Linked DNA regions of Homo sapiens: region 1 is linked to region 2. The links come from fine-mapping of genetic effects on gene expression. A gene starts in region 2. The other region holds a variant in brackets. All regions are shown on one strand. Distances are from middle to middle.

The links. PIP is the estimated chance that this variant, and not a neighbour inherited with it, causes the effect.
Region 1: its variant is fine-mapped to the expression of AHCTF1 in whole blood (TOPMed, PIP above 0.99).

What each region holds. Positions count from the first base shown.
Region 1 is chr1:246,960,123-246,965,498 of GRCh38, forward strand. The region is part of intron 6 of ZNF670-ZNF695 (ZNF670-ZNF695 readthrough (NMD candidate)); the gene reads right to left. It also overlaps a transcript of ZNF695 not described here. Among named protein-coding and RNA genes, the nearest start is that of AHCTF1, 31 kb to the left of the region's middle. RefSeq lists enhancers at 2,201-2,360, 2,411-2,460. The variant T/C (reference allele first, on the strand shown) is at 2,022.
Region 2 is chr1:246,929,042-246,934,417 of GRCh38, forward strand. It overlaps AHCTF1 (AT-hook containing transcription factor 1), which reads right to left and starts at 2,907. Exons shown (of 36, transcript NM_001323342.2): 1 at 2,537-2,907. RefSeq lists enhancers at 2,030-2,119, 3,240-3,289 and a silencer at 2,460-2,559.

The DNA of each region.
Region 1 (5,376 bases), 31 kb after region 2:
TTTTCCTCTCAGATTTCACACATTTTGCCACGTCATTATTTAAGGAAACTTTCTCATATTGTAATACTTCCTCTTTTCTATTCAAAGAAATTGTAAACATATCAGCAAAAAGGGAACCACAGTTTTATCTGGAACACTAATATATTTAGAGTGAACAACACTGCCACCCTAAGATTTCCCAGTAACCTAGATGCATTTTGCTGTACTCAAGCAGGCTGATATGATTGCAGTTTGGGGAAAAATTTATATTATATAGAGTGTGGTTTCTTTTGGAGTGGTTTGCTAGTTTCTCCAATGCTGTTTGTCATATATGTAAAAGTAAAAACAGTTGGTATTGTGTAGCAGTATAGAATACTACCTATGTTCTCTCTCTATATATATGCCCCAGAGAACCATTTGTTTCCATTCAGAGTGATAAGGTTATACAAGACCTACTTGGCCATGCAAGACAAGTTCTTTTCTTCATTTCTGTCTACAAATTCAGATCATTTCTCCATAGTTCAAGATAGCTATCTATCCTTCAAAGAATGGTACAGGCCAGGCATGGTGGCTCACACCTGTAATCCCAGCACTTTGGGAGGCTGAGGCCGGTGGATCCCTTGAGCCCAGGAGTTCGCGAGCAGCCTGGGCAACATGGCAAAACTCTAGAAAAATATAAAAATTAGCTGGGCATGGTGGTGCTCACCTGCAGTCCCAGCTACTTGGGAGTCTGAGGTGGGAGGATCACCTGAGCCTGGACTGGTTGAGATCACGCCACTGCACTCCAGCCTGGGTGGAGACCCTGTCTCAAACAAACAAACAAAAAACAAAAAACAACACAAAGAATGGTAGAGAGAGCTGTAAAAGTAAAGAATCTATGAAGGTCTTTTGAGCTCAAAAATGTTTCTATTTCAATTATCATTTAAAACATGTTCACTATGAAGGTGGGCTTCCTGACTTGATTCACTCATTGAAATTCATAGTAGGGTCAGTTGATGACCAAGAAACTTAGCTATTTCAAAATCATGGGGTATAAGTCTTAACATCAAATAATGCATATGTAACTCAAACTTCTCATCTTTAGCATCATCAGTTCAAAAATTATATACGTTACTCCACTAATTAGGCATAACACTTCATTAGAAGTTATATATGCATTCAAAGCCACCTCCAGCTGCACCAGCCTATAATGAGCTGTTTATTTGTTCATGTGACAATCTTATATTGCTACCTATTATTTCATGTGCACGTAGATACTCGATAAAGTCTTTTAAAATGAATGAATGCAAATCTTCTGCCTCCCACAGTGCCTGTTCTTAAATCCTAAGCCCCATTATTGCTACTCCCTGCCACCTCCATTCCATAAACTGCAGGGCCATTGTTCTATAAGCTGCTTGAGTTTAAGAGTGTTGCTTTCACAGCTCTCTTCATACGTACAGGAAGGCTCTGCTTCTCCTTCCCAAGACACTCAGGGAATCTTTCCAGGATGCTTCCCATTCACTCTACTGAATTCACCTACTCCCTCTTGCTACCTCTGCTTATAGTATTTTGCTTCAGACCCAATTGTCACCCACTGGTCCCTGAGATAGGCAAAAGATGCTTTAGACTATTTTCTTGGGTGCTGCCCTCGGGCTCCACATCCTGCAGCCTGCCTCATTCCCATTCTGGAAGGGAGTTCAGATAGCTTGAACTTAGTAGTAAGGGTGATCTGACTCCTGTGATCATTGACTTCAGTGTTCACCAGGCTGCTTAGCAAAGGGCCCTCTTCATCACTCCCTTCATCATTCAGTTAAGGGAAAAGATCTCAAGAACGCAGAGGCATAGAGAGGCACCTCAATGGCACTGTGCTTTGCAGACATATGAGTTGTCATGGCAGACGGTGGTGGTGACGATCACTGCTGCCTGTATCTTTATAACCTTAGAGAAATCTGAACTTCTCTTTAAGGAAATCCATGTGTAATTTCCTTCTCTGGTTGCTTCATAGGGCAGTCAAGGCGGCAGGAAGCCACAAAGCCCTGGCTAACAAATTAAAGCAATGTTTA[T/C]ATGCTAGGCTTGGTCTTTCCTAATGAAGGAGAGGCTGCTGACTAGTGGGGCTCAGGTCAGACTTCCTGTCACCAGCTGGGCTTGCACACGTAGGGAACACTGACGAATGGCTTGGGCTTTGTGCCCCATCAGCACTGGGCCCTCATGGCCCAGTCACAGGAATATGGCTAGCAAGGCAGCACGACTGCTTTACACCAGAGTTCAGGGAAAGGCATCACATCCCTCAAGCCACCCAAGCAAGAAGTCTGGTGGTCGTCCTAGCCTCTTGCTCTGCCTCATACCTCACAGACGATTTGTTTACCACGTCATAAAGATTTTACTTCTTAAATACCTCTCAAATCCATCCCCTTTCCTCTCAATGGCTCTGGCCACTGACTTAATTCAGGTCCTCATCATTGATCATCAGAGTTACTAAAATGAGAAGCAAGTGGCTTCCGTGGGGCTGGCCTCTTCACCTCTAAGCTGATGTTTTCTGCAAGAGTGATCTTTCTAAATTACTAACATCAGATTTCATCACCTCTCTGACCCCCTTCTGCCAGCTTGAAACCTTTCTTTTTTTTTTTTTTGAGACGGAGTCTCGCTCTGTCACCCAGGCTGCAGTACAGTGGCACGATCTCAGCTCACTGCAAGCTCCACCTCCCAGGTTCACGCCATTCTCCTGCCTCAGCCTCCCGAGTAGTTGGGACTACAGGCACCCGCCACCACGCCCGGCTAATTTTTTTTTGTATTTTTAGTAGATAACCGGGATGGTCTTGATCTCCTGACCTTGTGATCCGCCCATCTGGGCCTCCCAAAGTGCTGGGATTACAGGTGTGAGCCACCATGCCCGGCCTTGAAACCTTTCAACGATTCCTCGCTGCCTTTAGGCTGAAGTCCAAACACCTTAGCAGGCAAACCGGCTCCTGTCTCTTGCCACCTTTCTCCATGCCCCTCATTCCAGCTATATTCATCTAATGTCCATTTCCGATCATGTCACACTCCTTCTGCCTTTAGTGCTTTTCCATGCTATTCCCTCATCCGGAAGTGGCCATCCTTCACTAACTAGCTCACCCCTGCCACTGCTTCTGCATTCATTTATTCATGACACGTTTACTAAAGGTGACTGTGTGCCAGCCACTAATCTAGGTGCTGGGCATCAGTGAATCAAACAGACAAAACTGGCCATGTGCAGCGGCTCATGCCTGTAATCCTAGTACTTTGGGAGGCTGAGGCAGGAGGATCACTTGAGGCTAGGAACTGGAGACCAGCCTAGGTAACAGAGTGAAACTCTGATTTTACAGAACATAATAAAAAGAAAAATAAAAAACAGGCAAACTTCCTGACTTGTAGAGCTTCCCTTCCAGTGGTGGTGATGGTGGTGGGAGGGGAGGAACAATGAAGCGAACAAACAAGTAAATTCTACGCTAGATGACAAGACAAGTGCTATGGAGAATAATCCGGCAGGGAAGAAGGCTGGCAGTGCCAGAGCAGGTGCGGGGGTTATTGCGATTTTAAATGGAGTTGTGTATAATAGGAAAAACCAACTGCTTTCTCTTCTACAGTCATACTTGTCAGAGAATACTTCCTCTCCGGTTGCTAAAATGTGTGTGGAGTTTTCCCCACACCGACCAATTCTCCAACACCAGCTGGGTGATCTACAATTTAACTCAATCCTGACACTATGTACCTGGAGTTAGAGTCAGATTGCACAGCTTAAGGACTTAGTCCCACAAGACTGCCCCTACTTTAGATGCCAGTCACAAGCCCCAGGCTGTGACCCGTGTTCCTGACTGACAGGCTGTACACTGGAGTTCCCATGGTGCCCTCCTTGGATTTGATAATTTGCTAGGATGGATCACAGAACTCAGAAAACCACTTTATTTATGTTCACCTGTTTATTAGGAAGGATATTACAAAGGATACAGATGGACAGCCAGATGGGAGAGATGCATTGGGCCAGGTATGGGGGAGGGGGCAGGTGGCTTCCACGCCCCCTCCAGGGTGCATCGCCCTTCCAGCACCTCCGCGTGTTCAGCAGCCCGGAAGCTCTCCAAACCCCACAGTTCAGGGATTTTCATGGAGGCTTCATCACATAGGCACCACCAATTACTAACTCAGGTTTCCGCCCCTCTCCCCTTCATGGAGGATGGGGAGCTGAGCTGAAAGTTCCAAGTTTCTAATCATGGCTTGGTCTTTCTGGTGACCAGCCCTATCCAGGAGCCCACCAAGAGGTGCCCCATGAGAAAAAAAGACGCTACTATTACCCAGGAAATTCCAAGTGATCAGGATCTCTGTGTCAGGAACCAAGATCAAAGACCAAATATCAGAACAAAAGATTCTCCTAACGCCCCTATTACTCAGGAAATTAAAGGGTTTTAGGAACTCTATGCCAAAGGACTGGAGACAAATATTGCTATGGTTTGAATGTTTGTCTCTTCAGAAACTCATGTTGAAACTTAATCCCTGGCTGGGCCCAGTGGCCCATGCCTATAATCCCAGCAATTTGGGAGGCCAAGGCAGGTGGATCACTTGAGGTCAGGAGTTCAAGACCAGCCTGGCCAGCATGGTGAGACCTCATCTCTACTAAAAATACAAAAATTATCCGGGCATGGTGGCATATGCCTGTAATCCCAGCTACTCAGGAAGCTGAGGCATGAGAATCACTTGCACCCAGGAGGTGGAGGTTGCAGTGAGCTGAGATCGCGGCACTGCACTCCAGCCTGTGCAACAGAGTGAGTGAGACTCTGTCTCAAAAAAAAATTTAATAAAAAATAAATTAGAAAATAAAAACTTAATCCCCAATGTGGCAGTACTGCAAGATGGGGGAACTTTATGGGGTGATTGGGTCGTGGGGCTCTGCCCTCATGAATGGATTAGTCTGCTCATGGATTAATCCATGGGTTAACAGATTAATGGTTTATTATGGGAATCAGACTGATGACTCTACAAGAAGAGCAAGACAGGCCGGGCACGGTGGTTCACGCCTGTAATCCCAGCACTTTGGGAGGCCCAGGTGGGCAGATCACGAGGTCAGAAGGTGGAGACCATCCTGGCTAACCCCGTCTCTACTAAAACTATAAAACATTAGCTGGGCATGGTGGCGGGCGCCTGTAGTCCCAGCTACTCGGGAGTCTGAGGCAGGAGAATGGCGTGAACCCGGGAGGCGGAGCTTGCAGTGAGCCGAGATAGCGCCACTGCACTCCAGCCTGGGTGACAGAGAGAGACTCTGTCTCAAAAAAAAAAAAAAAAAGAAGAGCAAGACAGACCTGAGCTAGCACGCTCGGCCCATTTGCCATGTGATTTCCTGCGCTGCTCAAGATTCTGCAGAGTTGGCAGGGCATGGTGGCTCACGCCTGTAATCCCAGTACTTTGGAA
Region 2 (5,376 bases):
AGAATAAATGCTACTACAATAGAGGTACATATGCTGTGAGATCCCAGTAAAAAAGTGGGATAAGGGGAAATAAAAGAGTACAGTGGGCTGGGTGCGGTGGTTCACGCCTGTAATCCCAGCACTTTGGTTGGCCGAGGTGGGCAGATCGTCTGAGCTCAGGAGTTCGAGATCACCCTGGGCAACATGGTGAAACCCCGTCTCTACTAAAATACAAAAAATTAGCCGAGTGTGGCGGCGCGTTCCTGTAGTCCCAGCTACTCGGGAGGCTGAGGCACAAGAATCGCTTGAGCCCTGGAGGCGAAGGTTGCAGTGAGCCAAGATCACGCCATTGCACTCTAGCTTGGGCTACAAAGTGAGACTCCGTCTCAAAAAAATAAAAATAAAAATAAAAATACAGTGAAAACATTGGATTTAGAAGGAGGACCTGAAATTTGAGTATTTAAAAAAGGAAAGATGGCACTCCAGGATGAAGGACATGAGCAAAGAAACATCAGAGTGGAAACATCTCTTCCACAGAATGAGTCCAGGATTGATGACGATTCTGGAATAGCAAAAGCATAAAATTTGTTAACATATGAGGATAGACAGTAGCATATACTTATTGTAGAGACCTTTGAGCTAACCGAGGGAAGTTACACTTCATTCTGGGAAGAAAGAAAAGTCCCTGAAAATATTAAAGGTAGGCGTGAAAGACACAACGTTTTGCTTCCTCTTAAAATATATCTGTACCAGCCGGGCGCGGTGGCTCACGCCTGTAATCCCAGCACTCTGGGAGGCCAAGGCGGGCGGATCACGAGGTCAGAAGTTCAAGACCAGCCTGGCCAATATGGTGAAACCCCGTCTCTACTAAAAATACAAAAATTAGCCGGGTGTGGTGGCGTGCGCCTGTAATCCCAGCTACTCAGGAGGCTGAGGCAGGAGAATCGCTTGAACCTGGGAGACGGAGGTTGCAGTGAGCCAAGATTGTGCCACTGCACTCCAGCCTGGGCAACAGAGCAAGACCCCGTCTCAAAAAAAAAAAAAGATGTATCTGTACCTATGAAAAAGGAGAAGCATAAAAAGAAAACAAAAGTCTCAAAACTGATGTATAACGATCTTTTTTATTTTATTTTAGCAACAGGTTCTCGCTCTGTCACACAGGCTGAGTGCAGCGGCGCGATCCTAGCTCACTGCAACCCTCGAACTCTCAGTTTGAGGCTGAAGCTCAAACGTTCCCCCCGCCTCAGCCTCCCAAGTAGGCGCGCGACTAGAGGCGCCACCAATTCCCGGTTGACATGATGTTTTAAAAATTTTTTCAAGATAATTATTGTTGTTTGCAAACTCGTGACAGCTTGGTAGTATGTTACTGAAGGATCAGGATCCAAAAATCACAGTACAGAGACAACGTAGACTTCCCATAGCGCTTGGCACACTTAAAACATCCCTTCAAGTATTAACCTTAACTGGGCTTGTCATCCCAGGTCAAATCCTCCGAAATAAGTAAACCACTCTAATTTCTTCTCTCCTAAGAGACTCTATCAGTGAAAGCTCACAAAAAAACAGTTTAAAAAAAAAAAAGGGGGGGTCTCGCCATGTTGCTCAGGCTGGTCTCAAACTCCTGGGTTCAAGCGATCCTCCCGCCTCAGCCTCTCAAAGTGCTGGGATTACAGACAGGAGCCACTGCGCCCAGCCAAAGACAGTTCTTAAAATCTACAGGTTCTTTAGGATATTCTGAGAATAAATATCGTTTAGGATTTCCCCAAAGGATTTACGTTTTGTTCTATGAAGAACCCAGTTCTTCCAAAAATTTCTACAACTGACGATTTGGAAATAAAAATAACGCTCATCTCATAAAACTTTGCACACAGATAGTATGAACCTCGTAAGCTTTGAGAACAAAATTTCCCCATCTCTCAAAACAAAACACCCAAACCAAAACAGTCAACCAGTGGCAAAAGAAACCGTCCTGTTTCCCAGGTAGGAAAAAGGAAGGCAAAGCACCCCAAGATGTGCTTTTATTTTAAATCTCCTTGATCTGACCAATCGGGTGAGCTGGAACCTCACGGCTGAGCCCCGAGTCCAACTTCTTCCCCGCCAGGACTACTCACTGTGGCCAGGCCCAAGCGCATGTGGAACACACGCCAACACAGGACAGGCTCAGCACGCCGGCCGCTTCCCTCGGGGAAAGGCCCGCCAACGAGTCCATCGCGTGGGAGAACAGTGGGAAAGGGTCGCGGCCCCGGCCGTCCGTAAAGGGACCCGACTGCCGGCGCAGGACGCGAACCACCAGCGCCGCTCCGCCGCCATGTGCCGCCGCTCCTCCGGTCCGAGATTATGTAACGAAGCCCGGCGCCCGCGAGCCTGCCGTACCCGCCACCGCCACCGCTCGCCCCCTCGAGCCCCATCCGTTGGCCCCGCGCACGCCCGGCCTAGGCCCGGCGCTCGCGGGGCAGAAGCCCCGCCGCCGCCGCCGCCGCCGCCGCCGCCGCCGCGGGTCCAGGCCGCGCGACCCGCCCTCCGCCGCGCGGGCCCAACCCCCTCCCTCCCTTCCCCCTACCTGAACGGGGCGGGTGAGCGCGCCGCCGCGGGCCGAGTCCACCGGGTCGCCAGGCCAGGCGCGAGCTCCTCCCGTGCGGGTCCGTCACAGCATCTCCCGGGAGACGTGGCCGCCACGGGCCGGGCTCACACCCCTCCGCCCGGCTGAAGCCGCTCCTCTGCGCTCCGGCCGCCGCCTGCGACCTCCCCGGCCACCTCAGAGCCACACGCCCCCGAGAGTGCCTTCGCGGGCTGTAGGCCTGCAGACCGCTCAGCGGCTAAAACGCAGTCGCTGCTCCCGCCGCGCTTCTGGGTCCTTCCCCTTGCAACGCTGCCTGCTCGCCTCGGACAGCGCCGGCCCCGCTCTGCGCATTACCCTGCGCCGACAAAACCGAGTTCCACACGCCCCGGAAGGGAGGGAGCAGAGGAAAGGGCGGAGAGGGAGGGGAGAACCGGCGGGAGATCGCGGCTGCAGGGACCAGAGTTCTCGCGATGGTTCCGCGCTCTAGCGCCGGCTCCGCGGGAATTTTCAAACTCTCGGTGAAAGAAGGAGGTGGGAGGGAAAGGGAGGAAAGAGAAGCAGGGCCTGGAAGGGCGGATCATTTACAAAAAAATCGGGTCTCTCCGCCTCCGAGGAGCTGGTGGGGAGAAAGACTACGAGTCCCACAGTGCCTTGCGCGTGAAGCCGCCCTGGCGGCCCCGGCGGCGCGCCCCGTGCGCAGTTGGGAGTGGTAGTCTTCGCTGGGGGTCGCGCCGGGCTCTGCCAGCCGCCTGCTGCGATTGCAGGCGGACTCTCTTGTCACGTAATCGTGTGGCCCTGCCAGCTGGGGGCCGAGTGATAATCTTTCTCCCATAATTGGCAGCTTGCATTCTGTATTTTCTGTTCTGTGCTCCCACTTTTCTTTTTTTCTTTTTCTTTTTTTTGGAGACGGAGTCTTGCTCTGTTGCCCAGGCTGGAGTGCTGTGGCACGATCTTGGCTCACTACAACCTGTGCTCCCGCTTTTCATGCCAAAGGTGGGCTCCCAGACTTCTGGGGAAACGCTTTTTCCACGGTGCTGTTTTTTCTAGCATCCTCCTGTGCTTTCATGGCCAAAAATGCTCGCGCAGCCTAGCCTAATCTTTTTAGTCAAAATTTTACCCCAAATCACTGTTATCTTTTTGGTCACCGCGGGTTTTCATTGTGGAATTTCTTATTTCTTGTTAGTATCTTCCTTTGAAGCAAATCCCAGCGCCAAACATGTTTCAAACAGATAGGGAACGTATCCTTAATACTAAGTAGTAAGTAAAAGGATTATAACATGAGGTAGAGTAGGGATTTTAAGAAGATGCTCTTTTATCAGGAAAGTTTCTACTTTTCTGTTACCTTTCATATGTGCTTTTTAAATTTTTTTATTTTTGAGACAGTGTCTCGCTCTGTCGCCCAGGCTGGAGTGCAGTGGTGTAATCAAGGCTCACAGCAGCCTCGAACTCGTGGGCTCAAATGATCCTCCTACCTCAGCCCTCCAAGTAGCTGGGACTATGGGCATGGACCACCATGCGCCACTACGTCCCATTAATTTTTTTATTTTATTTATTTATTTATTTATTTATTTATTTGAGACGGAGTCTCGCTCTGTCACCAGGCTGGAGTGCAGTGGCACAATCTCGGCTCACTGCAACCTCCGCCTCCCAGGTTCAAGAGGTTCTCCTGTCTCAGCCTCCAGAGTAGCTAGGACTACAGGTGTGCGCCACCATGCCCAGCTGATTTTTGTATTTTTAGTAGAGACAGGGTTTCACCATGTTGGCCAGGATGGTCTTGAACTCTTGACCTCGTGATCCACCTGCCTCAGCCTCCCAAAGTGCTGGGATTATAGGCGTGAGCCACCGCGCCCGGCCTTATTTTTTATTTTTTGTAGAGACTGTCTCACTGTGTTACCCAAGCTGGTCTCTACTCCTGGGCTCAAGAGATCCTCCTGCCTCAGCCTCTCAACGTGCTGGGATTACAGACATGAGCCACCATGCCCAGCCTATTTTTATTTTTGTAGAGACTGTGTCTTGCTGTGTTGCTCAGACTGGAGTGCATGGCTATTCGCAGGCACTATGGCCTCATCAGTGCCACTGCTGCCTCCAACTTCTAGGCTCAAGCTATCCTCCCACCTCAGCTTCCCGAGCAGCTGGGACTACAGGCATGGATATCATGCCTGGCCCATATTCTTTCAGAGATAATGCTGCCTTTTGGAAATGTAATTTTCTTTTTTCTGTAATTTTTGTTTCTTTAGTAACAGCAACCTCCATACATATCATGTTTGTTTGCACAAGGTATTGGACCAAGTTGTGATAGAAACAGTTAAAAAGAGTACTGCTTTTGCAGTAGGAGGTTTGGGGTTCGTTGTCTTAATTATTTTAAAGAGATCTCTTCAAACAGAAACCACCCTCTGTTGGATGTGCTGATTTATGTCACATGCTCCATATTCTACACTTTCTTTGGCACTGTTTTATGCCCAGTTCATGAGTACTGTACCTCTCGATAGTCAGAAGACATGAATTATCAACTCAGGTGTGCTGCTAGTGAGCTGTGTGACATTAGGAAAATCAAGTGACCTCTCTGGGCTTCAGTTATCAGATGTGTAGAGCAAGGGATTGACTGATTCATTAGACAGATATTTATTAACTTTGCTCTAAGAGCCCTTCCAGTTGTGAAATTCAAAAATCTATTTTAATTGCACATATTATCCAGATTGACTGTCTACATAGTCTTTCAGATTTTAATCCTTTCCATCATTATCAACAGAATGATTTCTGTATCATTGTCTATATTTTTATTATTTACTTATTTTGAGACAGGGTCTTGCTCTGTTACCCAGGCTGGAGTGCAGTGGCAC